2 separate regions of the Homo sapiens genome follow, and region 2 is linked to region 1. Evidence: fine-mapped expression QTL. A gene starts in region 1. The other region holds a variant in brackets. All regions are shown on one strand. Distances are between the middles of the regions.

Region 1 (2,913 bases):
CTCTCTTACTAGTGTCTGCTGCTCCACCCCAGGGTCCCAGCCACTGAATGGCGAAGGGAGTGGGGAGCATCCCTCAGGGAGCCCCAGTAATCACCCCTCCCCTGCCTTTCCACCTCATTCCTCCTTTCTCCCTCCTTCAGCCTTGCGGGCAGACCCTGTGGGCCGCCTGGACCGCGCGCAGGAGGGCTGGGATTGCGGTGGCTGAACCCTGCGGACCTCTCCCATCTGCTCCACCCCGACCGCCTGCGGTTCCGCGCCCAAGGCTGGACAGAAGGCAGGAGAAATTTATAAGAAACAGACAAGCAAAAACCCTGGCTTCTTGTCACTGATTTTAAAGAACCCACTGAGGTCACTGCGATGGGTGGAGGGAAGCGAGAATGGAGGAATACAAGCCAAAGGGAAGGAAGGGGACGAAGGCGGACAGGGAGTGACCTCTTCCTCCAACCCCCGGGCCCGCTGGGAGCGGCGCGAGGCCAGAGGCCCTTGAGAGGCTCGGGCTGTCCTGGGGGCCTCAGTCCTCTGCCTGTACCCCATGGGGGACCCTGCTGCCACCAGGCGCCCCGCACTCACTCGACCTGCAGCGTGCTGGGTTTAATCTTCACCTCAACCTTGTAGGAGGAGCCGGTGAGCAGCTTGATGGTGCGGTTCTGGCCGAAGCGCTGCCCGTCCACCTTGTAAAAGACCGGGCCGTCATTAGGCTGGATGCGCAGCGCGATGGAGAGGCGCACGAGGCCCGGCAGGTCCCCCATGTCTGGGCGAGGGTCTGGCGCGGCGGCTCCGGGGGGCGGAGGACAGCGCCGGCTGCGGCCGAGTGGCTGGAGCGCGAGGGGCGGAGAGGAAGCGCGGGGAGGGTGAGGGAGGTGGTGGAGCTGAGGCTGCCGCTAGGAACCCGCGCCGTCGCCGCCGTCCGCCCGGGCTTTTGAGGAGCAGCTCCTTAGGCTGTGGCCCCCCTCCCCACTCGGCGAGGAAGCGGGCCCAAGAGACGGCTCCAAGGCCGCGCGCTTCCCCATCCCCCGCTCCAGTGCTGCGCCCTCCACGCACCCGAAGGCTCGCTCTGGCCCGCAGGCCGCCGCGCAGATCCGCGCAGCTGGGGGCGAGGGAGTTAATCCTGTTTACGCACCACAATCCCCTTCAGCTGGGGAAGCGGACATTTAGGCTCCTCCTAGAACAGCCCCGGGCAGGAGGAGGAGAGGTTTGGGAGGCACTGGGAAGGCGCTGGAGTTAAGCGACCACTATGCCAAGGAGCGAGACCCCCGGAATCTGGATACCGCCTCGGCCAGCTACGTGAGGTGGACACTGCTGCTCGCGGATCCGGCGCCAGCCAGGCGGGAGGAGGCTGAGGGGGGGTAAAGGGAGGCGGGAAGGGGGGACAGGAAACCGCTAGCCGGTGATTTAAATTTCAGGAAATATGAGTCTTTCCAAAGCTTAGGGGAAATGGCCGAGGAAAGGCGCAATTCCACGTGATGGAGCCACGCTGGATGAGGAATGGATGCAAGAGGAAGAAAATAACCATATTCAAGGAGCTACATCTTCTTGTGGGTGTACATTTCCATTATACGTATGCTCGTCCCAAAAATGACACATACATAAATATATGTAATGAATCACATATATTTACACAGATTTTGAAGGGTGAGCTATTAACCCTGTAAAAGGCAACTGACATGAGCCTAAGGCATTCTGGTGACAAAATGGCCAAGAGGTGGGATGGGTCAAAGGATTATTGGCAGGGGGCCATATGCGACACCGCAGAGTTTAGATTTGCATATTAAGCGTGATTAGACAGTTTTCGTGGCAGAGGTCGGTAGACAGCTGACTTTTGGAAGCGAGGGGAGACTCAGGGGGTGAGGACTATACTGGGAATGGCTTCCCGGAGCAGAGAGAGCACCTGCTTCAGCACCACCCAGATGGATAGTACCAGAGCCAGGGAGCACACCTGGGAAATGAAGTGGGCTAGTGAGAACAAATGGGTAGGGATGCGTTTCCTTGGCAGTTTTTGTTTACCCAAGTTAGACTGCTCTTTTTTAAGAAATAATAAGCTATACATATAATATATATGTAATATGGGTGTTTATTGCAACATTGGTTGCAAAAATAAAAATAAAACCTAAATGAAATGTTAACCAATAAATAAATGGCTGAATAAATTCTTATATACCCACACTATAGAACGTTACACAACTATCAAAATAATGAAATATAGGTTGCATTGGCAAACACACAGGCAAAAACTGTTAATGATAAAAGTGGGATGGCTGGGAAACAAAGCCTGAGGGCGAGCATTTTGTCTGTTTTGTTTGTTGCTGTTTCCCCAGCATGCCAAAATAGTGCCTGACACATAGTAGGTGCTCCAGAAATCGTTGTTGAATTGACTTACGGTTGTGGTCTTAATCATGTCCATATGTAAATTCTTTCACATCTTTAAAATTAATTAGATCCTTGCGATTTACCTGGAATGATGAAAAGAAATCTAATTGCAAGTAGCATCTCTAGTGTTTTAGAAAAATGAAAATTTAAAAAGAATATAAATGTGTATGTTTGTATTAGCTCTTTTAAAAGAATGAGAGAGTTACACAGTAAACTTAATGTTGGTTATTATGGTTTATGAGTAGTGGAAAGAGGGTGAGTATCTTTTTGGGGTCATTTAAAAGCCTTTTTGGAAATTTTGCCTTTTTTCCTCAACCTTTTGTTTAGCAACCCCACAATCTCAAGCCAACTTCCACCTGTGTATCAAAAAGAGCATTGGACCTGGAGGATGATGACTCCATTTTAAAACCTGGTTCTAAGGCCGGCATGGTGGCTCATGCCTGGAATCCCAGCACTTTGGGAGACCAAGGAGGGCAGATCATTTGAGGCCAGGAGTTCAAGACCAGCCTCGCCAAAATGGCAAAACCTGTCTCTACTAAAAATACA
Region 2 (2,913 bases), 73 kb after region 1:
TTGCTTTCAGCACAAGTAAAATGAAAAATGTTGGAAAATTTGTATACATGCTTGCCAATATGTGGTGCTTTAGAAATTACAAATAATATTTCTTGTATTGGCAAGATAGAAACTCCGTATCTTTTAATATAATACTATTTTTGGCTTCTGGAGTTAAGTCATTTGAATTTCCTGTGGGAAATCATAGAGTCAGGTTTACCATGACAGTTTAAAATCTGCTACACACTAATGGAAATAACTTGGTAACTCACAGCAAGTACAAACAGATATGAAGCAGCTGCTATATGCCAGGCACTGTGGCCCTGGGAAACAAAGATAAGCAAGACACAAATCCTGCCCTTAAAACTCAGTCTAGACAATGTCAGTGTTTAATTCTGTTGGGAAAGGCCAAGTCGTCACCTTCTTTCTTCTTCTTCTTTCTTTCTTCCTTCCTCTTTCCTTCCTCCTACCTTCCTCCCCCTTTTCTCCTCCTCCTCCTTCTTCTTCTTCTTCTTTCTCCTCCTCCTCCTCTTCCGCCTCTTCTTCTTCCTTCATCATGTCTGTTACAGCAACAGGCATTTCCATTCCTACTGCAGCTACCTAAGGTTTAGTTCCTAATGATTTTATGCCTGGATTATTGTGATCCTTCCCTAATGAATTCTTTTTTACTTACCATCTTTTCCTGGGCTTTCCTTTAATCTAGCCAGCTGGTCCATCCTGCACTTTGTCACCATATTAATCTTCTTAAAATGTAATTGTAATTCTTTCACTTCCTACTCAAAAGCCATCAACAACAAACCCTGCCTTTTATTTCCACTAAATCTCTGTCCACTTTTCCCACCTTGCCTCTGCTACTCTTCATGAACCCTACATTCTAGCCAGACTGGTCTTATTCATCAACACCTGAGTATGTCTCTTGCATTCCCACTTCTGCTCTTGTGTTGTCAGTTGTCCTCCTACCCACCTTTGTCTTGCCCATCTAAATCCTGTGTCCCACATGGATAAGTGCAGGTCTTTATGAGGCTTTCTTTGATATCCAAAGCCCACAATTACATATTCCCTACTTAATGCCTTTGGAATCCATTATCTATACCAATTATTTGATTTGGGCATTTGCTACTTTATATTTCAACATAGGTCATAAACTCTTTAAAGATCAGGGCATCTTAAACCTCTTTATTCCCCCTACATTACCTAACACAGCACATTGTACCTAGTACTGCCTTATATCATACTAAAACTGGAAGACAATAATTAGAAATAATTTAATCCACCTCTTCGATCTAATAACATCCATATTATTTATTGGCTGTAGCACTATCTCCCTGACAAAGACCTAGGCCGGGATATTGTTATCCTGGAGTTAGTATTTCATTTTCTCTTTCTTTTCTCAATTCAGCAAATAATTATTCTGTAGGTATTGTTTGTACAGAGTGATGCTGGGAATTCACCATCCCTTCTTTTAATGTTGATCCTGGATACAGGGGCATAGAAGGAAAAACTGGAAAGTGAGGAAGTTCATCTTGAGAGAAGACCCTGCCTACCTGCACTACTATGACCCTGCTGGGGTAAGGTCCTGTGGTTCATAAATCCATTCAAATAAATAAATCCACTGCATTTATAATCTGGGCTTCCTATTCCCCTCTCTACTCT[G/A]TTGATATCCCCTTTTTCTCTTTACTGGCCCACTTTTTTTTCTCCCATTCTCCTCTACCTTTTTCTATCCCCTTTCAATGCAAAGATCTGAGATCTTGGGCCTCTGAGGTCAGTATAAGCTTAGGGATGGAACAAAATATCACTATATTATAATTTATTTGGTCAACTCAACATATTTTTCCCCAATCTGATATTTTCAGGGGAATTAAATCAGTCCATGGTTTAATATGCATAAAGGTGATAATTCCTCATCCAGGTCAACTTGGATGAGGGTATTGTTTAAGTCCAGCAATTTGGGCTGTTGATTGTCGAAGAGGACTTTTTCCACCATAAAATGAACCACTTTTAAAGCATGAAGACAACTCTGGGTAGGGTGCTCACCCTCCGCTTGCAGCACTGGGCTATTTGACTTCCCCTGGGTGGTTATATTGCTGCATCAGGTGCATGGGACCAAAGAGCTCTGGAAACATGTAGCTCTTTTTTAGTGGGATACAGTGACCTCAGTGTCTCCACCTCTCCTGTCACTTTTCTCCAGATTGAAGTCCAGATCGTCTTGCATTTTCTCATTGAGCCTCCTGGCCCCACTGAAGCAGGGTGTGGAGGATCTGGAAGGACCTTAGATCTGTCAGCAGTTTTTCTTTAATCTCCTTCTGCTCTTACTTATTTTGGGGGGCCCTGATCTATATTAGAGTGAGTCTGGCTTTTTCACCAAGAGGATGAGGTCTATCTATACTCTGCATTTTGGAAACATAATGAACAACTCCTTTCTTCTTTAGGCAGAAGATCCCCTGGGAGCAATTCACTTGAGAGGCTGTGTGGTGACTTCAGTGGAGAGCAACTCAAATGGTAAGATGAATTTCTGTGTGAGAGAGGTGGGTCTGCTCAGACTCCCCTCCCACACCTGGACATCCTGGGCCAACATTAATCAATCAATCAATTAATCAGGATAAGCAGGAATGGGGCAGGCATGGTGGCTCCCACCTGTAATCCCGGCACTTTGGGAGGCCGAGGAGGGCAGATCACTTGTGATCAGGATTTCGAGACCAGCCTGGCTAACGTGGTGAAACCCCATCTCTACTAAAAATACAAAAATTAGCTGGGCATGGTGGCACATGCCTGTGAATTGTTTGAGCTTGGCAAGTTGCAATGAGCTGAGATTGTGCTACTGCACTCCAGCCTGGGTGACAGAGCAATACTCTGTCTCAAAAAAAAAAGCAGGAATGAATTTACTGTCTGAAAACCTTGGAGAAACCAGAGTTATTTTTTGTCTCCCAACTGCTG

The links. PIP is the estimated chance that this variant, and not a neighbour inherited with it, causes the effect. A credible set is the group of variants that fine-mapping cannot tell apart.
Region 2: its variant is the best candidate, but not a certain one, in a credible set for the expression of CNRIP1 in visceral fat (GTEx, PIP 0.57).

What each region holds. Positions count from the first base shown.
Region 1 is chr2:68,318,652-68,321,564 of GRCh38, forward strand. CNRIP1 (cannabinoid receptor interacting protein 1) reads right to left here and starts at 1,298. Exons shown (of 3, transcript NM_015463.3): 1 at 571-1,298. The coding sequence starts at 749.
Region 2 is chr2:68,391,699-68,394,611 of GRCh38, forward strand. It overlaps PLEK (pleckstrin), which reads left to right. Exons shown (of 9, transcript NM_002664.3): 7 at 1,464-1,547; 8 at 2,409-2,478. Among named protein-coding and RNA genes, the nearest start is that of PLEK, 28 kb to the left of the region's middle. The variant G/A (reference allele first, on the strand shown) is at 1,633.